Linked DNA regions of Homo sapiens: region 1 is linked to region 2. The links come from fine-mapping of genetic effects on gene expression. A gene starts in region 2. The other region holds a variant in brackets. All regions are shown on one strand. Distances are between the middles of the regions.

Region 1 (4,395 bases), 130 kb before region 2:
GTGAGCCAGGATCGCACCACTGCCCTCCAGCCTGGGTGACAGAGAGAGACTCTGTCTCAAAAAAAAAAAAAAAGATTTTTGGTTGCAAACAACAGAATCCACTCTTGCTAGTTTAAAAATAAAATGAACCGGGCGTGGTGGCTCACGCCTGTAATCCCAGCACTTTGGGAGGCCGAGGTGGGCGGATCATCTGAGGTCAGGAGTTCAAAACCAGCCCGGTCAACATGGTGAAACCCCATCTCTACTACAAATACAAAAAATAAGCTGGGCGTGGTGGCTTGTGCCTGTAGTCCTAGCTACTCAGGAGCCCAAGGCAGGAGAATCACTTGAACCAGAGAGGCAGAAGTTGCAGTGAGCTGACATCACGCCACTGTACTCCAACCTGGGTGACGGAGTGAGACTCCGTCTCAAAAAAAAAAAAAAGAAGGAAAATAAAATAAATTGAAAGTATTAAAGGGTATTAGATAGCACATAGACTGTCTGGAAGGGCCAGAGAATCATGTTCTGGGCTACTTGGCAGGAAGTTATATCCAAATCATACTGCTGGACTGTTATAGAAGAGAACGCCGCTGGCGTTGGCACTGTGGCTGCACTAACTCTCTGCTGGGGATACCAACACTGGTGCTGGGCCATTTCTGTGCCACTGGCAAGCTCCATAGCTTCACCAGAAAACAGATTCTGCATGACACCTGCTTTCTCATGGTTTTTTCTTCTGCATTCAGTGTTGCATGGCTACATCTGATTGCAGAAACTAGGTCACATGCTTGCATCTTGGCCGCAAATAAGACTAGAATAGAGAGTTCTAGTTTCACCTTGAAAAACAGAACTCAAAATATAGAAATTCCCTTGATATTGGAAGGGCTTTTAAGAGATGATAAGAAGCCACAAACATAAAAAGTGTCTGCTAGGGCAGGCACAAAATGATTAGGCCACCAAACCCTTGAAAAGCAGCAGGAGGCCTCTGTTTGCAAGGAGACTTCTGTTCATGATTGGAACAGAAAACAGCCATAAAAGGATTTTTCTGTAACAAAAAAAAAGTCTTGCAGGAGGCACTCAATCTATAAATTGTTTTTTTCCCACCAAATGCAAGGAGAGATTCAAGGTCTCTCCCTCACACCTTGGCTTTGGCAGGTATTCCCAGAAGCTTTGCAGACATTATTAGCACACTGGAGGACAGTCATATCTCCACCTTGACACAGATTTGGAAAAGAGTAGGCAGAAAAAAAATGAAAGCAATTTAAATGTAGTTCTTAACATTTGTGTGGTGCAAAGCAAAAGATCTCCATACCAGAGTTTAAGTAACTGCAGACAGAGAGACTGAGAACTCTATAATCAGTGGGTCCCATCAGTTGAGAGTGCTATGGACCAGCACAGAAGTAGATCAGCAAAAGGCACAGAATCTGGACAATATAGGAACAAATTCTGGAACTGAACTAGGACAGTGACATTACCTTAGCCAAAATCCTCTAAGGCAGAAATGCTCAATAGATTTTATCTTACGTACCAAGATCTATGGTTGTGGCAACCTCAGTTACCTTGTTAAAGACTACCAAGAGGCTGGGTGTGGTGGCTTACGCCTGTAATCCCAGCATTTTGGGACGCCGAGGCGGGCAGATCACCTGAGGTCGGGAGTTTGAGACCAGCCTGACAAAATGGAGAAACCCCGTCTCTACTAAAAATACAAAATTAGCTGGGTGTGATGGCGCATGCCTGTAATCCCAGCTACTCAGGAGGCTGAAGCAGGAGAATCGCTTGAACCCAGGAGGTGGAGGTTGTGGTGAGCGGAGATCACGCCATTGCACTCCAGACTCCAGCCTGGGCAACAAGAGCGAAACTCTGTCTCAAAAAAAAAAAAAAAAAGACCACCAAGAAAAATGTCCTTATGTAAACCCATTTTCACATGGTTGATACTTATAAGGTTGATACTTACAATTTCGTATTCTACCTTTTTCCTCATTCATTGAATCAAAAACGTCTTTTCATGTTGTTTAATCTTGTTAATTATCCCTTTTAACATCTGCATAGTATTCCACCAGCTGATGCACTCTAATTTACTCAACTATTTCTCCATTATTTTATACTAGGATTAGCTCTAATAATTTGAGAAAGATAAGTAGAATTTTTAAAATAAATTCTTTCTGTTATTCTAAAGAGATTAGCACAGAAATAGTACCTGAGCTTTTCACGGATATGGTCATGTCAACCTTGGGCCTATAGAGATTCCACAAGTACCTTTAAAGGAAAAGTGGCTTTATGAGAAATCAGGCTCCATACTTTCTTGGAAACTTTAAGCAGAAAGACTTTAGGAAGTCCTGACATATGTTCCCAAGATGGCAACTACATACTACAATAAGACCTCTCTTCCTGAACTGAATATCTCTAAGATATCCTTGGGGAAAGAGACCCAGAATGGGGCTGGCTC[T/C]CATTTGCAGTTCTGAAAACCACTCACCTTGAAAGCTCAGTCTCCGGAGTCTGGATAATTAGTGGCGAGAATGCCGAAAGCTGCTCAGCCTGTTGTGGGTTTTGAGATAAAACCTCAATTTCCATAATCGTCATAAAGAGCAGAATAGTCTTTCTACCCCAAAATATATTCAATATGAATTGTGAAGTGTCTTAGGAAGAATTTGCATGCAAGGAACAGAATTCCACTAACTCAAATAAAAAGAGGGTTGATTGAAAGGCAGAGGTTATTATGGGGGTCACAGTAAGCCAGCGCTGGAGATACAGCTGCTGGGCATTATAGGGCCAAGAAGGGGATTATGCAGATTTTATTTCTCTCTCTCTCTCTCCTCTGCCTTTTGAGGTACATGGCCTCTCTATTTGACTCTGAGTATCAGTCGGCCCCATCTTTGTGCTCTTTTGTTTGCAGATGAGCTTTTTCTGCTGACTCATGGTTTCTCAGCTTCCCTTCACTGTGGCTAGCATGAGGTTTTGGCCTGCTGTGGCAGGCCAGCTGGGCATGACCTTGCAGCTTGGCTCCACACAGCTAAATGACTCAGCCTCTTTGTCCCTATTCCAAATTCCTGGGAGAGAATTCGATCAACCCAGTTTGAGTCAGATGTCTACTCCTGGGTCAGTAACTGAGACTGATGGGGCACAGTCACATGGCAGGTAGTACTCTCTCTTCCAAGTTAGGAGCGGGGTAGAGTCTCCAAGGCAGTATATGGGTAGGGAGGAGGGAATGTTTGACATCTCTGGGGCAGATATGGGGCTGAGAGAGGCATGCACGGTTGTGATTAAAAAAAAATGCATGGGGTTTGGAAAAAAAAAATCTGCCATTTCGTAGTCATGAAACTATAGACAACTTTCCTAATCTTCCAAAGACTCATGTCCTTAATATGTAAACTGAACAAAATGACCTCACAGCTCTCAGGATCTATTACTGCTATTTTCATTTTAGGAATCTCATAATGTAAGGAATGACCAACTCTAATATCGACAATTTGGCAGGTTTTATATGAACAAACATTGAAAAAATTGTCTTTGCAGTAAGTCCAATGGTGTATTATTACCAACGTTACCATTACTGTAAACAGTTTTGGAAGGCTGCTCACATGTGCTAACAATGTTGAAGTCCCCAGCTAGGCATTCAGCAAATGTTTCTTGCTTAGGGGGGATTTCTAAAGGAAGAGGAAAGCAGACCTTCCTCTGAGGTTTGCCTGTTAAGGTGTTAGAGGCTTGAAAAAGTAATGTGGTGAATAGATGCCTCCATTTCAACAGAAGATTCACTCAGTTCTAATGCTGAGGGTGAGCAATGCTCTAAAATGCATTGTTGGTGAACTGCTGCAAATAAAGAAAAAAGACTATGTTAATTGAAATTTCTATCTATGCCAAATTAATACAACTATCCTGCAGTGTATGAAACTGAGGCATTCCTGTAAAGTTGTCTACAAAGCAAGATTAGTTTTTCCCCATTGAAATCCATTGTGGCATTGAACGTTTAGTATGTTCCTATGAAGAAAGGAAGGATCCAAAGGGAAACACTTAGAAAAGTAACAATTATCCTGGTGAGGATCTTAATTTCTCAACCTACTCAAGTTTCTTTTAAAAATCTGGGCATCCGGCTGGATGTGGTGGCTCACGTCTGTAATCCAAGCACTTTGGCGGTGGAGGAGGGGTGGGGAGCGTGGATCACGAGGTCAGGAGTTCGAGCCTGGCCAACATGGTGAAACCCTGTCTCTACTAAAAATACAAAAACTAACCAGGTGTGGTGGCACGTGCCTGTAGTCCCAGCTACCCAGGAGGCTGAGGCAGGACAATTGCTGGAACCCAGGAGGCAGAGGTTGCAGTGAGCCAAGATGGCGCCACTGCACTCCACCCTGAGCAACACAGCAAGACTCCATCTCAAAAAAAAAAAAAAAGAAAGAAAGAAAAAACATCTGAGCACCCATACAA
Region 2 (4,327 bases):
GGATCACTCGAGGTCAGGAGTTCGAGACCCGCCTGGCCAACATGGTGAAACCCTGTCTCTTCTAAAAATACAAAATTAGCTGGGTGTAGTGGGGCATGTCTGTAATCCCAACTGCCCGGGAGGCTGAGGTGGGAGAATAGCTTGAATCGGGGAGGTGGAGGTTGCAGTGAGCCGAGATCGCGCCACTGCACTCCAGCCTGGTAACAGAGCAAGACTCTGTCTCAAGAAAAAAAAGAAAAGAAAAAGAAAAAAAGCTTGCAGTTCCATAAATTCATGAAATAGTTCTTAAAGCTTCTTATTCATGTAAGGTCTCATCCCAATACAGACATTTGTTATAATACCAAAAATGCTTTCCTGAAAAATCTTACTTTCTGCAAGATACATAAAAATAAGAGGTGCTTATGCAATCAACAGGATTAAGGGATAGACCATTCAAAACCTACAGAACATTATAACCAGGACAAAATAAAACCAGTACCATTTCTAATAAAAATACTACCTTTGAATCTCTACTAGCATAACCTTAAACCCCAGGGCTTGTCCTTTTTCCTTGAGATGTAGTCTTTAAAAGCACTGCTTCTCATAAACCGTTTTAATCAAAATAAAAAATCAGATCCATGACATAGCCTTCTTCATCAATCCATTGTTTTAACATAGGGAGAATGTAGCTTCTTCATGTGCATTTTTCAGCTTTCTCAGACAGCTTAACTTCAGGGGCTTCCCGCTGCACTTACAATAGAACTCAAGGTCTTACTTTTTGTGGTCCAGAACAGCGCTGTCCAACAGAACTTTCTGTAATGATAGAAATGTCCTATATCTGCACTATCTAAAATGGTAGCTGCAGCCACATGTGATGATTGAGCACTTGAAATGTGGTTAGTGCAACGGAGAAACTGAATTTTTATTTAATCTTACTTTATTTTAACTCAAATTTAAATAGCCACATGTGGTGAGTGACTAACACATTGGACAATACAGCTCTAGGGCTTATCTTCTTACCAACTACACTATGTCTTGCAATTTCTTGCCATCTAGGTAGCCAACATGAGGAGGTCTATAAGATATCCCACCACACACACCCGCATCCACATTACTTTTTCATTCTCATTTTTCATGACGCTCCCACTCTTTGTCTACTTTCTGATTATGATTTTTAAATTCCTCTAATATGCCATTTTATTTCTATCTTCTGGGCCGAAGAAACATGCTGTTCTCTCTGCCCTCCTCGCCCTAATCCTTAACCTAACTTCTACTCATTTTTCAGGTCTCAGCGAAAGGGTCACTTTCTCCAAAAAGCCTCCGCTAACCCCCGACAACCTATATTAGGTTCTTCCCACTCTTCTGTTGTCTGCCTAGAACTCTTTTCCTTGCTAACACTTAAAATTTGTGATCGTCAGTTTATCTATGTTTACCGACTTTCTTGACTGCAGAAACTGAATCTGTTTTGTTTACCACTGCATCTTGGTACCTAACGGAGTGCTTGGCGCACAGTATTTGTGAGATGGAAAAATGAGAGACTGGGCCACATCATCAGGACATCCGACCTCCACCAACCAGAACTTAAAAATCCTCCTAGCCATACCACAAGGCAGATCCGCGTCCTCGCTCCCCAAGCAAAGTTGGCCTCAACTGATCTGGAGCAAGGACGCCTCAGCTCAGTACGCCGCTCCCTCCCTCCTCTCCAGCCAGGGAAGGGATGCCTACGTAACCTCGGCTTCATCCCTTCTTCAAAGGGGAATGAGGCAGCGGTAGAGCCACAGTGCGCATCGGCCACCACATACCTTAGACATCGAGGACGTAGCCATGGTCTTACTGACTCTGCGTATTCCAGATGCACTCGGGATTTCCCGCGCGCCCTCGCGGCTGCAGGGCAGAGGTTAGTGGCGAGCCACACGGCTCCTTGATTGGCTGGCATCACCCTCCGGGGCGGGTTTCCGGCGCGGGGAGGCGGGTCGTATAAGGAGGTGGGGCGAGGCCGGAACTGGCGGACTGCGGCGCACTTCCGTAGAGGTGGACATGGCGTGCGGCTTTCGCCGCGCTATTGCTTGCCAGGTATGGATCCCGGAGCGCGCAGAGGAGTCCCTGAGGAGCTAGGGACCCCAAAGGCCTTTCACCGCTGCGGGCCAGTCCTCAGTCAGCTGGAGGGTGGGTCCCACGGAATCCTGTTAGTTTCTACCACCTCCTCCCCCTTCTCTGGAGCTGGTGGAGCTTCAGAAGTCCTGTGGAGCGTCGGCTGGGATCAGTTTGTCTCGGTGAAAAGTAAACTTTGAAAGGTACCTGGTGCTTTCTTCTCTCCTTCCCACCCCACAGCTATGAATGCTTTACCTGGGTGGCGGCAAGTCATTAGACCATGATTAGACCCCATAGAAGTTAGTGTTCTTTACACTTTAGTGACATTGATGATGGATCTGGATTGTTCTTCAGAAGGACCTCATTTTAAAGCTGCTTATTTCTCTTGCAGTCACTTAGGCAGCCTACCCTAGAATTGTTTTTGGTAACGCCCAAAGATATAAGAGCTATCTGAGACTCAGTTTTTCTTGGTTCAGGGTCGTATTTGAACAGCTCTGTTGTGAGGAAGGGCTTACAAAATTGCAATATAATTGCTTTGTTTTGTTTTTCCTTTTTGTGGAGAACGGGGTCTCGCCGTATTGCCCAGGCAGGCCTCAAACTCCTGGGCTCAAGCTGTCCTCCCTCCTCTGCTTCCCTAAGAGCCGGGATTACAGGCCTGAGCCACCGCGCTGGGCAAAATTGCAGTATAAATGTGGAATTAATCAAAAAGAATTTTTAAGACTCATTGGCCACCCTTGCAAGGAAACTTTCTATTGTGGTCTTGGCTAACCCATTTCCTTCTGATTAATGGATGTACTAGTGGACGTAATTAGCCTGGTGTATAATTTATCTTGGCTCATTTTTACAGTATTTCTAGACATTTGTGGGGAAATCCCTCTGCCTTGTCTTTATGTTTATAGATGTACTGCCCTGTCCGGTGATAATTCGCCAAATATCACCAACATGACATTTTGTTAAGACAGCTGAATTTATTGCTCACTGGGATAAGGAAGAACACCACTGAGAGCTTTGGTAGTGTATTAAACTGGGAAAGCAAGGTCAGATTTTACTGATGGGTATGGCTTAAGGCTGGTCTTTCAGAGGGAGAGGGTAGGAGGGTGTTGGAGGAAGATGGCTTGATTAGGGTTGGACTCTGATCTGATACAGCGGTTTAAGATTGATAGGAAAAGCAAAGAGTGCAAGAAGCCTTAAGGCATAAACTATTGAGGTTTTCTATTGGAAGAACTAATAGGCCTGGCATGTGGTTCATGCCTATAATCCCAGCACTTTGGGAGGCCAAGGTGGGAGGATGGCTTGAGCCCAGGAGTTCGAGACCAGCGTGGACAACATAGGTAGACCCCGTCTCAACAAAATTTTTTTTAAAAAGTAGCCAGGCATGATGGTGCACCTCTGTAGTCCTAGCTGCTTGAAAGGCTGAGTCTGGAGGATCACTTGGACGGACCCACGAGTTTGAAGCTACAGTGAGCTATGATTGTGCCACTGCACTCCAGGGTGGGTGACAGAGCGAGACCCTGTAAACAAAAAATAAAAATAAAAAACGTGAAAAGCTAATAGATTTCTCATGAAGTTCTTATAATGAATGATTAAGTTATTTGGGCAGAAGTCTTCTAGAACAGTAAAGTTATGCTAATGAAGACAAAAAATAATAAATTCATGTTAATGTAGACAGTAAACCATATCAGGGAAGGTAGTTTTGGACCTTAGTATCTAAGCTGTGTGTAAGGGTGGACGTTTTCCATTCTTAGCCCTTAAGTAAAGATAGTGCCATGATGAGAAACAAATTGTGTTTAGTTTTGCAAAGGCTGTGTTCTTTGTAAAGACTGTAAATTGGACCAGGCATGGTGGCTCACACTTGTAATCCCAGAACTTTGAGAGGCCGAGGTGGGAGGATCCCTTGAACTGAGACGTTCAAGACCAGCCTGGGCAACATAGGGAGACCCCCATCTCTATAAAGAAATAAAAAACAAAACTTAGGTGTAGTGGCACACACCTGTGGTCCCAGCTGCTTGGGAAGCTGAGGTGGGAGGATCGTTTGGGCCCAGGTGGCTGAAACTAGCAAGCTTTGATTGCACCGCTGCACTTCAGCCTGGGGGACAAAGTGAGTCCCTGTCTCAAAAAAAAGAAAAAGATAAGTTGGAGAAACAAGAACTAATATATTGAGTATATATTTGTGCTAGTTACTACACATTCACATTTAAGCTCATGGCAACCCTGTGATATAGAAGTATTAACCTTATTATATAATTGAGTCAGTTGA

The links. PIP is the estimated chance that this variant, and not a neighbour inherited with it, causes the effect.
Region 1: its variant is the best candidate, but not a certain one, in a credible set for the expression of ORC3 in whole blood (TOPMed, PIP 0.60).

Annotation. Positions count from the first base shown.
Region 1 is chr6:87,721,977-87,726,371 of GRCh38, reverse strand. No RefSeq gene overlaps it. Among named protein-coding and RNA genes, the nearest start is that of AKIRIN2, 22 kb to the right of the region's middle. RefSeq lists enhancers at 487-546, 1,237-1,346. The variant T/C (reference allele first, on the strand shown) is at 2,423.
Region 2 is chr6:87,587,647-87,591,973 of GRCh38, reverse strand. It overlaps ORC3 (origin recognition complex subunit 3), which reads right to left and starts at 1,839. Exons shown (of 20, transcript NM_012381.4): 1 at 1,782-1,839. The coding sequence starts at 1,805. It overlaps RARS2 (arginyl-tRNA synthetase 2, mitochondrial), which reads left to right and starts at 1,987. Exons shown (of 20, transcript NM_020320.5): 1 at 1,987-2,052. The coding sequence starts at 2,017. RefSeq lists enhancers at 1-21, 22-522, 1,903-2,132, 1,896-2,857.